2 linked regions of the Homo sapiens genome follow. The protein of the gene in region 1 purifies or fractionates together with the protein of each later gene. This does not show direct contact. Each region holds a gene or a part of one and is shown on either strand. Other genes may lie near its edges.

The links.
Region 2: the proteins of DDX24 (region 1) and NPM1 purify together in Homo sapiens (affinity purification with mass spectrometry; 5 studies listed by BioGRID and IntAct, with this or other methods). This does not show direct contact.

What each region holds. Positions count from the first base shown.
Region 1 is NC_000014.9:94,050,203-94,057,202, reverse strand, and holds part of DDX24 (ATP-dependent RNA helicase DDX24), read left to right. Parts: intron 1-2,018; coding exon 2,019-2,207; intron 2,208-4,075; coding exon 4,076-4,205; intron 4,206-5,740; coding exon 5,741-6,012; 3' UTR 6,013-7,000. UniProt on the Homo sapiens protein: ATP-dependent RNA helicase that plays a role in various aspects of RNA metabolism including pre-mRNA splicing and is thereby involved in different biological processes such as cell cycle regulation or innate immunity.
Region 2 is NC_000005.10:171,390,425-171,398,033, reverse strand, and holds part of NPM1 (nucleophosmin), read right to left. Parts: intron 6,730-7,609; coding exon 6,610-6,729; intron 6,329-6,609; coding exon 6,235-6,328; intron 5,325-6,234; coding exon 5,218-5,324; intron 5,121-5,217; coding exon 5,056-5,120; intron 1-5,055. UniProt on the Homo sapiens protein: Involved in diverse cellular processes such as ribosome biogenesis, centrosome duplication, protein chaperoning, histone assembly, cell proliferation, and regulation of tumor suppressors p53/TP53 and ARF.

The sequences.
Region 1 (7,000 bases):
GCCAGGCTTTGAATCCCCAGTCTGCTGCTTCATAGTTGGTTAGCTTTAGGCAAGTTATTTAGTACCTCTGGTTTCAGTGTCATTGTTTGTAAACTGGAAGTAACAACTAGCTACCCCATAGGGTTATCCTGAGAATTAAATTGAGCTGATGCTGATGAAGCCGGTAGCACAGTGTAAGTACTCAATAAATGGTAGCTGGTATGGCATTATCATTTTTCCTCTTTAATTCCTCTTTGTGCTTTTAAAAATCTTTTAGGCTGCTGTTTCAGAGAAACAACAAACTCACAGTGCTTTTTCCCATTCTCTCACTTCACAACAACAATCAACATAGAAGACTTCTGTAACCAAATGTGTGGGCGTTTTTCACCACATATCAAGCAGCAGCCACCAGCTGGGTGTCCTCTAATTTAGTTTCATTTTCTGATGCTGTCTTCCTGGAGATAGCCTCAGATCCCACAAGATGTCCCTCCTCCCCGCAACCAGTCGATAAGTCAGGGCCTCTGGAACTTCTGACCAACCAGCTTCAAGTTGGGGTTCTCATGACCCCCCGCTTTGGGTTCAATTAATTTGCTACAGCAGCTCTCAGAACTAAAAGAAACACATTTACCAGTTTATTATAGAGGATATTACAAAGAATATAGATGGGGAGATGTATAGGCTGAGGTACAGGGGAAGGAGCATGGAGTTGCCATGCCCCTCCTGGGTACACCACCCTCCAGGAATGTCCACATATTCAGCTTATTCAAAAGTTCTCCAAACTCTGTCCTTTAGGAATATTTATGGAGACTTCATTGGGTAAGATGATTAATTAAGCCATTGGCCTTTAGGAAGTAGTGCTGCAAGTCCCAACCTTCTAATCCTGCCTTGGCCTTTCTGGTGACCAGCCCCCATCCTGAAACTACCTGGGGGGCTATCAGCCATCAGTCAATAGTTTGTCATTAGTATACAAAAAGACATTACTTTTGAGATTCCTTTGCCAGGAAACAGGATGAAGAGCAAATACATATTTCACTGTATCACAGGTGCTAATTTTGGTTTAGCAAATCTCTATAGTCTTCCCTTTTTTGGGGAAGGAGCTGGGTCAACCTTTGTGGAGTCAAGATGAATCAAATACAGTCCCAGCCCCTAAGAAGTATTGGATCCAGCAGAGGAGGTGAGATGACCACAGCCATAATTTAAGGCAGAAGGTATTAGAAAATTACAAAATACAATGGAAGAGAGAGGTAACTTCTAGTTTGGGAGGTTGGAAAGTACTTTCTAAAAACATGCCTGGCATTTAAGGGTGAAGAGGATTTGGACATATAGAGGCATTAAAGGAAGGAGCAAAGAAATGGGCAGTGTTCAGGGGCACTTGGCTCACAGTGAGAAGAGGGTATGTGTTGGGAAAGGAATAGTTGCTGAGGCTGGAGGGGTAAGTTGAGGGCAAGTCACTAAAGGCGCTGAGTGTCAGGTTGAAGAGTTGGGCCTTTATCCTGTAAGTAAAGAAAGGCAAATCTCATTTCTAGAACTCTTATGAACAGTTCATAGTGGCTACTTAAAGTACTGTATTGAAAAGGATACCTAGATGTTATCTGGGCCCAGTGGAGAAGACTGTTGTGCTTGATTAATGGTGTGTGCCAGGGGCTCAGTGGGTGTGTTAGCAACCATGCCACATTATCTATGGATAAAATATATATAGGAGTAGAGACCGTATAACCCAGGGATTAACATGGTCTGTGGAGCTGGGCTGCTTAAATCCTGGATAAGAAGTGACTGCTGTGGTCTGGCTGCATGGTCCTGAGGACCTGAACCAGGGTCAGGGGCATGGGAGGGAAGAGCCTACACAGTGAATGGGCTAAACCTGGGAACATTTTGAATGTGGGACTAAGAGAGGAGGGCTAGATTGCTCTACAATGCTGCAGAAGTTTCTACCTGCCTGGCTGGGAGGTAGGAGGGTCTGGTTTGGGGATGTGGCCCTGAGGAGAGGACCAGTGTTTGGCAGTGGCCATGTATTGATCTCCCAGTTCTTCCTGTGGCAGGTCCCACGTACCTCGGAGATTTATGTCCACCGAAGTGGTCGAACTGCTCGAGCTACCAATGAAGGCCTCAGTCTGATGCTCATTGGGCCTGAGGATGTGATCAACTTTAAGAAGATTTACAAAACGCTCAAGAAAGATGAGGATATCCCACTGTTCCCCGTGCAGACAAAATACATGGATGTGGTCAAGGTAGAAAGCAGTTAAAACCCCAGTGCTAATGAAGGGATTGTGCTGCTCCCTTGCAGAGCACCTTGCTGTGGGACTCTGGCAGCATAACCCTTGAAAACTAAGGAATGGTTCTGCCAACAGCTGAACAAGGAGACTTGTAGAAAGGATTGAGAGCAACATACCTGGGAAAAGGGAGAAAAGGGGAGTGACTGAAGGTGGGAGGCATTTTCTCCCTGAACCATTTCTTCCTTCTCTGGCCCTGAAGTCCCCCCTCCTCACCAGACAGTGCAGTGGTCATGGCTGTCTGGATATCCTGTCAGAGGGTTGTAGACAGTGTGGTTAGTGTTTCCTGCTGAGGCAGATGCTACAGGTTTGGCACATCCCTGGAGCAGGTGCCAGTAAATTCTGTCTTTTGGGTTTTAACTCAGCAGGCATTCCCCAGGTAGGTGCCGCTTACCATGGGACACTGTATTAGTGACCAAAGTGGGGTGGGTTCTCCTTCCCAGAGGTTTGCCAGCTGTGAATAAAGTTCAGGTACAGTGGAGCAGTATGGAATTACTGGGCATATGGTTACATTGGGAGGAGAAGAGGTTCTATCCCAGCTTCCTGCTGGCAAAGATGTGGAAGGGTACAGAGGAGGTGGAATTCCAGGAATTGAGGGAGCAAAACCATGGCACAGTTCAAGGAATGTTGGCTTCTCTGGCTCAAAAGGAATATTAGCTGTGTGGGGAAATAGGGTGGAGATAAGGATGGAAAAGTGGAAATCATAGAGAATTCCCATTAGTAAGGAGGATTAGGAGCCACCCAGGCTTCCCTTGGTTTCTTTCCCCACATCACAAGATCCTTCTCATTTTGCCACTGCACTGTAACCCCAAAACCCTCTAGAGGGAGAGTTGAAATGTTTTATCTTAGCTCAGCTGTGGAAGCAAGCTGTGGCATCTGCGTAAAGACTTCACTTTGGTTACCTATAGGTTGGCAGTCAAACCAGTAAGGGTTTTCAAAGGATGTGGCTGTTCAGGTTGATTGTTGGGAAAGCTGGCAGTTGTGTTTAGATGTGTACACACAGACGGGTAATGGTTGCCCACTGGACTTTTATCAGGAAGCAATAAATGCATTTCAACAGGAACTGAACTGCATCTCACCACTGATCTCAAGAGCTTTTTATTTATTTATTTTTAATTTTTAATTTTTAATTTTTTTTTGAGACGGAGCTTTGCTCATGTTGCCCAGACTGGAGTGCAGTGGCACAATCTTGGCTCACCACAACCTTCGCCTCCCGGGTTCAAGTGATTCTCCTGCCTCAGCCTCCCAAGTAGCTGGGATTACAGGCATGCGCCACCATGCCCAGCTAATTTTGTATTTTTAGTAGAGACGGGGTTTCTCCATGTTGGTCAGGCTGGTCTTGAACTCCTGACCTCAGGTGATCCGCCCGCCTTGGCCTCCCAGAGTGCTAGGATTACAGGTGTGAGCCACCATGCCCGGCTCAAGAGCTTTTTAAAAACACTACTTGCTGGGCACGGTGGCTCACGCCTGTAATCCCAACACTTTAGGAGGCTGAAGTGGAAAGATTGCTTGAGCACAGGAGTTCAAGACCAGCCTAGACAACACAGTTGAGACCCTGTCTTTACGAAAAAAAAAAAAAAAAAAAAAAAAAAAAAGAAATTACCTAGGCATGGTGGTGCCTCCCAGCTGCTTGGGAGGCTGAGGTGGGAGGATTGCTTGATCCAAGGAGGTTGAGGCTGCAGTGAGCCATGATCATGCCACTGCTCTCCAGCCTGGGCAGCAGAGTGATACCTGCCTTAAACACACAAACACAACTCAAGTGAGACTTTGCTTCCCAGAGGCCTGAACTCTATTTCAGATGAATATTTTCTGTTACTTCCCCCCAGGAGCGAATCCGTTTAGCTCGACAGATTGAGAAATCTGAGTATCGGAACTTCCAGGCTTGCCTGCACAACTCTTGGATTGAGCAGGCAGCAGCTGCCCTGGAGATTGAGCTGGAAGAAGACATGTATAAGGGTAAGCCCTTGGGCGGGATGGGAATTGAGGAAGTTGAAATCTCTCTTTAACTTTTGCTTTGTTGGAACCATCTCTACTACTGTGGGTCTTGTCAAAATCAGCAAGGCGTCCTTCCCCCTCTTTGCTAACAGGCCCTGGTCCCAGGTGAGCCTACTGCCCTCGGTCAGTCTTTGTTTCCTCTGTCTCTGTCTTGTGCCCTCAGCTGCCTCCTCTTACATGGACAGGCAGTGGAGTACAGTGAGGAAGGGAGCAGGCTCTCTGGCCAGGCTGCCTGTGTTAGAATGCCGGCTCATTGCCTTAACTATGTGACTGAGTCAAGTTATTTAACCTCTGTTGTGTTCTCAGCTTTCTCCTCCATAAAATGGAAGTAGTCAACTACCTACTTCATGGGATTGTTGTGAAGACTGATTGAGTTAAAAAATGTTAAGTGCTTATAGCATTGCCTGGCAAATAGAAAGTATTACATTTTAAGTTATTTGTCATTATGGTTCCTACTACACCTGCCTTCCAAGCTGACAAAGCACTTCCATGCCATTATCTCATTTGATCTTCTCCACTTTCATGACATGAACACAGCAGGAAGTACTCTTCTTTTACATATGGAAACTAGATACCACAGCAGAGGCAGTTTGTGCAGGGAAACAGCTCTGTCACAAGGCATTTCCAGAGCTGCTACTCTATATGTGACCACAGGCTGAGGCTTCAGGGATGAATCTGCCCGGTCCCTGCTTGAGAAAACTCCTGGTCTAAAAAGTGGTAGAACCAAATCTAGAACTCCATGCTCCTTCCACACCACCAAGTATGCAGCTCAGCAGAGATGTTGACACCTCGGTGCCCAAGTCAGCAAATTCAGAGGCAGACTTAACTGCTGTCTGCTCAGCATGGAAGCCAGGAGCCAAACCAGTGGGCTTGATGACAGTGAGCTATTTCTGGTGGCTCAGGGTTGGGGCTTGGGCCGAAGATGTGGAGGCCCTGGCTTCCCTTCCTGAGGACAGACTGAGGTGGAACCTTTTGGCTCTGCCAGCTTCTCCATGTGCAGTCACAGCACTGGTGGCAAGGCATAGGAGAGCTGGGCTACAAAGAAGCATTCAGTGTCTCCTGGGGCGGCAGGGAGGTGGGGGTTGTAATTGTGAACTCACCAAACCCCAGGTGGGCAGTAAGTGGGTGGGTCATAGGAAGAAAAGTGATCTTCAGTCAGGAGACTTGGGTTCTGGGCTCTGTCTGATGACTGGCTCTGTGATGTGAGCCAGGTGACTTCTCTAACCCTGAGTTGCCTCATCTGTAAAGATAATTCCAGTCTTGGAGGATTTTTATGGAGTAAAAAAGGACAGAGCGGTCCTGTGTATCCCCTGCAAATGGTTAGACGTTATCCATTTACAGCCCCTGCCAAGCCACCACTAGCTTCTTCAGAGAACTTTTGAACCCTGCCTCCCTAAAGTAGTTCTAAAACATTTTTCACTGTGTTACCCATCAAGGGAAACAAAATGTTTCTACAAACCATAGTAAATAGGATCGTTTTTGTATTGTGTTTCAAGGAGGAAAAGCTGACCAGCAAGAAGAACGTCGGAGACAAAAGCAGATGAAGGTTCTGAAGAAGGAGCTGCGCCACCTGCTGTCCCAGCCACTGTTTACGGAGAGCCAGAAAACCAAGTATCCCACTCAGTCTGGCAAGCCGCCCCTGCTTGTGTCTGCCCCAAGTAAGAGCGAGTCTGCTTTGAGCTGTCTCTCCAAGCAGAAGAAGAAGAAGACAAAGAAGCCGAAGGAGCCACAGCCGGAACAGCCACAGCCAAGTACAAGTGCAAATTAACTGGTCAAGTGTGTCAGTGACTGCACATTGGTTTCTGTTCTCTGGCTATTTGCAAAACCTCTCCCACCCTTGTGTTTCACTCCACCACCAACCCCAGGTAAAAAAGTCTCCCTCTCTTCCACTCACACCCATAGCGGGAGAGACCTCATGCAGATTTGCATTGTTTTGGAGTAAGAATTCAATGCAGCAGCTTAATTTTTCTGTATTGCAGTGTTTATAGGCTTCTTGTGTGTTAAACTTGATTTCATAAATTAAAAACAATGGTCAGAGCCATTGTGTCATCCTGATTTTTTTTTTTTTTTTTTAGATAGAAGATGGGGGTGGTGGTGTAGTTTGTTTCATTATTAACTTAGTGATTCTCCTGGGCCAGCACAGTGCTAAGCCCTTGAAAGGACAGGAATAGTGTCAGGCCTCTGGCTGCAGGCCAAGATTGGACAGTGTGAATGGAGCAAGAGGCTGGAATGTTCAAGAGGTGCATGTTCCTGCTTTACCCAGAGCAGCACCCTAATAGCTCCTTAGCTCTCTCCACTCTCCTGGGTATTGTCTGAGCCACCGTGGGAGGTGGGCAGGGATGAGGTTGCTGTCTTCAGGCTTCCCTCACATCACAGAGCCAACAGTAACAGTCGCTAGGTCTGGCGTGTGAAGCCCTCAGGATCTAGCCCCAGCCTTGTCTCCACTCCCTCCTGTTTGACAGAGCAGGCTCCTGCCCACGGTTCCATGCACCCCTTCTCTTGTCCTGAGCCTTTGTGCAGAATAGGCTTTTCCCTCGGTCTGGATTGCCTTTTGGCCTTCTCCATCCTGGAGCACTGCCATGGGTCCTCTAGTCCTGAGCCTCTAAGGGGAAGCAGTGCTTCTCCTGGGGCTCCCTTAGTGTCCCGTGCTTACCCTCTTCATAGCACTTGCCATGCTGTGTTCCCTTAGCTGAGCTCCTTGGGAGAAGAGGAACTCAAGGCTTGGTCAGCCTGGTATAAATATGTGCTCAGGGAAC
Region 2 (7,609 bases), on another chromosome or scaffold:
CGGGCCTGACCTCAGGAGTTCAAGACCAGCCTGGCCAACATGGCGAAACCCGGTCTCTATTTAAAATACAGAAAATTAGCCGGGCGTGGTGGGGGGGGTGCCTGTAATCCCAACTACTTGGGAGAGGCAGAAGAATTGCTTGAACAAGGGAGGAGGAGGTTGCAGTGAGCCAAGATCACATCACTGCACTCAAGCCTGGGCAACAGAGACTTGTCAAAAAAAAAAAAAAAAGAATTCTTGCCAGGCACAGTGGCTCACAGCTGTAATCTCAGCAGTTTGGGAGGCAGAGGGAGGTGGATCACTGAAGACAGGAGTTTAAGAACAGCCTGGCCAACATGGCAAAACCCCTTCTCTACTAAAAATACAAAAATCATATCAAAAAGAAAAAAGAAAAAAGAATTCTTACAACTTAGTAAAGACAAAGAGAAGTAAATGGATTTAAGTGGGCAAAAACATTTCTCCAAAGATATATGGCCAATGAATACATGAAAAGATGCTCATTATTAGTCCACAGGGAGACGCAATCAAACCCACAATCAGCACTTCATACCACCAGGATTAGAGTCAGATAATGGCAAGTGAGGGTGTAGTGAAATCAGTAGGTTGGAGTGAAATCAGAAGCCCCATACACTGCTAGTGGGAATACAATGGGTGAGCCACTCTGCTTTAGGTGTACATCCAAGTAAAATGACATGTCTACAAGCGTTCATAGCAGTCAACAAGTAGAAGCAACTCAAATGCTCACCAACTGATGAATAACCAAACATACCCATACAATGTATTCAACCATATAAATAAATGGAGTACTGATAATGCTATAACATGGATGAAACTTGAAAACACTGTGCTAAGAAAACAGTCACAGAAGTCCATTCGTGCAAAATATGAGGGACAGGAAACCTATAGACAAAGTTCATTCGTGGTTGACTAGAGCTGAAGAGCATGAGGGGTAATACCTATAGAGTACGATTTCTCATTGAGGTGATGAAATGTTCTAAAATTGATTATGGTGATGGCTACACAACTATGCATACTAAAACCACTGAACTGCACACTATTTTTTTTTGAGTTTTACTCTTGTTGCCCAATCTGGAATGCAATGGTGCGATCTCGGCTCACTGCAACCTCCGCCTCCCGGGTTCAAGCAATTCTCCTGCCTCAGCCTCCCCAGCAGCTGGGATTGCAAGCGCCCACCATCACACCCAGCTGTATGTTAGCAGAGACGGGGTTTCACCATATTGGCCAGGCTGGTCTTCAACTCCTGACCTCAGGTGATCTGCCCGCATCGACCACCCAAAGTGCTGGGATTACAGGTGTGAACTGTTAATAGGTAAACAATGGAGGGGAGTAATCAAATCGAGTCACTGGAGGGCAAGTCAGGCAGAAGTCTCTATTAGCAAATACCAAGGGGTTCACGTTTAATTCAACAACTGAACGTACTGGTCTCTAAATCCCAATACAGCAACTTCATGTAAGAAACACCTATCTTTCCAATACCGAAGAAATATTTGCTGTATTTAGAAAAAGTATCATAACTTAAAAAGCTGTCACAAATAGCCCTTCAAGTGGCTTTTTAACAGTGATTTTGTCAGTACAAGTTTCTGGCATTAGAACCCAATCCCTGCAGGTGCCTCCCCTGTGCTAGAAACAAGATGAGAATGCTTTTTTTAAACATTTTTTCTTATTTGTTAAAACAAGTCTATTAAACTACTATCAAAATAGCTATCAAAACTACTATCAAAACAGCTTTACTGGCAGGGTGTGGTGGCTCACACCTGTAATCTCAGCACTCTGGGAGGCTGGGGTGGGCAGATCACCTGAGGTCAGGAGTTCAAGACTAGCCTGACCAACATGGCGAAACCCCATCTCTATTAAAAATACAAAAAATTAGCCTGGCATGCTGGCACATGCCTGTAATCCCAGCTACTTGGGAGGCTGAGGCAGGAGAATCACTTGAACCCGGGAGGCAGAAGTTACAGTGAGCCATGATTGCACCACTGCACTCCAGCCTAGCCAACAATGCACTTCAGCCGGGGCAACAGAGACTGTCTCCAAAAAAAAAAAAAAAAATTCAGCTTTACTTAAGAAATTCCCCAAAAATTAAAAAAGACATTTAAGGGCCACATACTATCAACGTATTACATACATCTATGTATAGTATACATCAGCACTATGCACATTACATAGCCTTTCTTGCTTAAATCAAGAGTCATCTGAGCCCACACCATATACCCATTCCATCCTCAAAAAGGAACCAAATTCCCCTTTGATCTGTGTTCAAAAGGTTAGATTTCTAAGTAACTATAACGAACCTTCATGCACCTCTTTGCATTTTCATTGCCATCTATCTATGCTGGGCCCTTGCCATCTCACCACTGAAGTTTCTATTAATATTTGTTTCCCTCAAGGCATCCTTTACTACTATGCAGACCTTAGTACACTTTCTTCAACTTATATGAAAACTTGCGGCGGTGCATGGTGGCTCACGCCTGTAATCCCAGCACTTTGGAGTTCGAGACCAGCTTGGCCAACATGGTGAAACCCCGTCTCTACTAAAAATACAAAACTTAGCCAGGCGTGGTGGCAAGTGCCTGTAATCCAAGCTACTCTGGAGGCCGAGGCAGGAGAATCACTTGAACCTGGAAGGCAGAGGTTGCAGCGAGCAGAGATCATACCATTGCACACCAGCCTGGGGCACAAGAGCGAGACTTGCCGAAAAAAAAAAAATCCCACAAAAAAAACCAGGTACTGATTTGGACCTTGATATCTACACTTTTCATTCCTATCAATGCCCAACTTAAAGACAAACAAAATTACATTGTGGTTACATCATGAATTTATACCCATTTTTCTGAGATGGGAGTCTCCCTCTGTTGCCCAGGATGGAACACGGTGGCGCATTCTTGGCTTGCTGCAACCTCCACCTCCCAGGTTCAAGCAATTCTCCTGACTCAACCTCCTAAGTAACTGGGACCAATAGGCAGGCACCACGATACCCAGCTAATTTTTGTATTTTTAGTAGATACCGGGTTTCACCATGTTGGCCAGGCTGGTCTTGAACTCCTGACCTCAAGTGATCCACCCACCTCAGCCTCCCAAAGTGCTGGGATTACAGGCGTGAGCCACCATGCCTGGCCTAATTATATCAATTTTTAAAAAAGGAAATCTTCCAAAGCCCCAACAGGGTCAATACTACAATCAGGTCCTACTCCAAAGCCTTTCTGGAAGGGATTGCTTGTCCCCGAGCCTCGGTGAATGCTATTAAACACTTATTTTATAAACTTGTACAAAGGTAACTCAAAATCAGACTAAACCAATCCGAACCATACCATCCCTATTTCTAATTTGTGTTTTTAGCCTGTTTCCCATTCTTCTCTTGGAATGTATTTCAATTCTTACTAACGAGAAATATTCTTAAAAGTGATAACCAAACAAGCTGGGCTTGGTTATGCTCCTGTAACCCCACCTGCTTCATAGTCTGAGAGGGGAGGATAGCTTGTGCCCAGAGATTCAAGTCCAGTCTGAGTAGCATGGTAAAACACCATCTCAAGAAAAAAAGTGGCCGGGCACGGTGGCTCATGCCTGTAATCCCAGCACTTTGGGAGGATGAGGTGACCAGATCGCCCGAGGTTAGGAGTTTGAGAATAGCCTAGCCAACGTGGTGAAACCCCATGTCTATTAAAAATACAAAAATTTGGCTGGGCGCAGTGGTTCACATCTGCAATCCCAGCACTTTGGGAGACCGAGGCAGGTAGATCACGAGGTTAGGAGTTCAAGACCAGCCGGACCAACATACTGAAACCCTGTCTCTACTAAATACAAAAATTAGCAGGGCATGGTGCCCCGAGCCTGCAGTCCCAGCTACCCGGGAGGCTGAGGCAGGACAATCGCTTGAACCCAGGAGGCAGAGGTTGTGGTGAGCCGAGATGGCGCCACCGCACTCCAGCCTGAGCAACTGGAGACTCCATCTCAAAAAAAAAAAAAAAAAAAAAGAAAACAAAAACAGCAACAGTCAAATACTACCTTTAAGTTTGCGTTCATTTATAAGTTTGACATGCAAGTACTTTGAATTTTTATTTTTCTTTTGAGATTGGGTCTTGCTATTTTGACCGGGCTGGCCTCAAGAGATCCTCTCATCTTGGCTGGGTGTTAGGATTACGGGTGTGAACCACTGCGCCTGGTCATACTTTGAATTTTTAAGCTTTCGGCTCTTTCGGCCTTTTTCCTGTTTTCTGCCTTCATCGTCATGCTCAAAGATTTTGAAGAACCACCAGCTTAAAACCTAAACTCCCAATTTGATCTTTCATGCAGGTTCTCTTTTAAAGTGCATGTTCTTATATTTGTTTTCAATAAATGCATATGGACCAACCTCAGAACTGAAGGACAAAGCTGAGAGCCAAATCAAAGTATTCAATGCATTACTGGTACTGGCACACATAAGACCAATTATAAACAGTACTTTATACCAGTGTGCGTATTAACTGTTTGTAACAATAGTTTGATCTAGTTTAATATAAAGTCATCAAATATTGTTTCCAACCATATTTTAAATCCCAAGAAAATCTTAATATCCCTTTTAGAATCTTATTTTTGTCAATAAATATCTACATAAAACCATAAGACAAAATCCTTTTAGGGAATAACAAACCTTGAGTAACAACTTGTAAAATGAATATAGAGCTATTTAATCATATTTTCTTTCAACCCAATCTCATTAACTGCTCACCATAAAACATACCAGGCTTGATGGGTATAACACATCCACTAAATCTTCAGAACAAAGGGACATAATCAAACTTCACAAACACTATAGTCTACCCTTCTGAAGAGTCACAAGTCACAGCATTGTAAAGGCTCACAGACCCAATATCCTTTCAACTCAGCTCATTTAACTTAAACTGACAACAGATGACCACCTGCCCTTTTATTATAAACTATTACATAGGATGGCTTTTTGTAAATGACTTTTATAAAACCCTCATGCATATAACTATGTCAAATTCCTTTTTTTGTCAAGATTCCGGAAGTATATCAAGTTTCTAAAATCATACTTACTCTTCATCATCATCCTCTTCATCATCATCGTCATCATCTTCATCAGCAGCAAGTTTTACTTTTTTCTTTTAAAAGAAAAGATACGTACTCATGAACAAGAGCTGTTCTATCACCAAACTAAAAGCTATAATACAAAACCTATAATAAAATTGCCATCTCTACCTGTGGAACCTTGCTACCACCTCCAGGGGCAGACCGCTTTCCAGATATACTTAAGAGTTTCACATCCTCCTCCTCTTCATCTTCTGACTCTGCATCTTCCTCCACAGCTAAAATACAATTTATTAGACATTATAAAACTCAAGCAGCAAGAAGTCAGAAAAAAAAAGAACACTGATAGTAAATACTCTAAAAACTGAGACTTCTATTCTATTTAAAAAAAAAAAAAAAAAGAGCACATGGGAAAAGGAACTTTTTAACAAAAGTATTTTGAGGCCTAATGTTCACTGCCAGGTTTTAAATGCAAGAAGCCTGGGGAGGGTGGCTCATGCCTGTAATCTCACTTTGGGGAGGCCAAGGCGGACCACTTGAGGCCAAGAGTCCAATCTGGGCAACATACTGAGACCCCATCTGCACATATACAAAAAAAATTAGCCAGGCGTGGAGTGTGCCTGTAGTTCTAGCTATTCCAGAGGCTGAGGTGAACCCAGTAGCAGTTCGAGGATATAGCAAGCTATGATCACATCACTGCACTCCAGCCGTTATAATGAGACTGTCTTTATTAAAAAATAATTTTTAGGCCAGGCACAGTGGCTGACACGTGTAATACTAGCACTTTGAGAGGCCAGGGCGTGCAGATCACGTTAAGGCCAGGAGTTCAAGATCGGCCTGGCCAACATCACGAAACCCCTTCTCTACTATAACTATGAAACGCAACTGGACTTGGTGGTGCACGTCTGTGGCCCCAGCTACTGGGGAGGCTGAGACAGGAGGATCGCTTGAATCCCGGAGAGGTTCCAGTGAGCCAAGATCGTGCCACTGTACTCTAGCCTGGGTGACAGCAAGATTTCCTCTCCCCCCCGCCCCAAAAATTTATTTGTCCTCTCCAATTTCTAGACTCACATTGGAACCTATTAAAAAGACAGTAGTACTATACCCATGCTTTAAGTCCAAACTGGGAACCAAGCAACTGCACTAAAGAGGACAAACTAAGTAGTATAATATATAAAAATAACATACCTACTAAGTGCTGTCCACTAATATGCACTGGCCCTGAACCACACTTCAACCTTAAGACCACTGGTGGTGTTATTTCAAAGCCCCCAAGGGAAACCTAGAAGGGAGAAATTTTTCATCACTAAACATGTGAAGAAAATGAACAATAAACATTACAGGCAAACACATAAGCCAAATCAACAAACCAGTGAACCTGTTTTTCCACCTCTGATAAAAGTAGCAGCAGAAGCCCCCATGTTCAAGAGTTGACCATCGAACTCCAGTGACAGAAGATAAAGAACCACTTTCTATCTCCTTGGCACAACTAAATGACACCAAACCTACCTTAAAACAGAATTAAACCTTGACACAACATCCAAAGTATGTAAGTGCCCTTACCGTTGGCTGTACAGACATTTTCAAAGTTGCCAGTGTTACTTTAATTGGACTGCCTTCGTAATTCATTGCCTCTGCTTCAACAATGTGCAACTCATCCTTTGCACCAGCCCCTAAACTGACCTGTGAACAAAAAAAAAATACTACTTCAACTTTTGAGTTCCACCTATTTTACACCCCCCCACTAAATGTTATATGCAGCCATGCGTCACTTAACCACAGGGCTAGGTTCTGAGAAATGTGTTGTTAGACAATTTCATCTTTGTACAATCATAAGAATGTGCTTATACAAACCTAGATGGTATAGCCTACTACACACACCTAGGCTACAAACCTGTACAGTGTTACTGTACTGAATACTGTAAGCAACCGAAACACAGTATTTGTGCATCTAAGCATAGGAAAGGGCCGGGCTTGGTGGCTCATGCCTGTAATCCCAACACTTAGGGAGGCTGAGGCGGGCAGATCATGAGGTCAGGAGTTTGAGACCAGCCTGGACAACATGGTAACAACCTCGTCTCTACTAAAAACACAAAAATTAGCCAGGTGTGGTGGCACATGCCTGTAATCCCAGCTACTCGGGAGGGTGAGGCAGGGAATTACTTGAACTCGGAAATCAGAGGTTGCAGTGAGCCGAGATTACACCACTGCACTCCAGCCTGGGTGACAGAGCGAGACTGCCTCCAAAGAAAAAAAAAAACAGGAAAGGTATATTAAAAATAAGGTATAATAATCTTATGGGACCACCATTGTATATGCGATCCATCTGTTGACCCAGCAGTTGCAATGAGGCACATGACTGTGATTTTTTTAAAAAACAAGTATAAACCTCTCACTATTACCCTGGAAAACAAATTTGTGCAATGTTGTCCTCAGGTTTTGTGATCTTGGCAAATCAGTTTCTCATATTCAGAAAATTTAAGAAATGCATAAATATGCATACACACAATATAGACCACCTAACATATTTATTGAGCAACTTCTAAGTTGAGCAGAAGGCTAG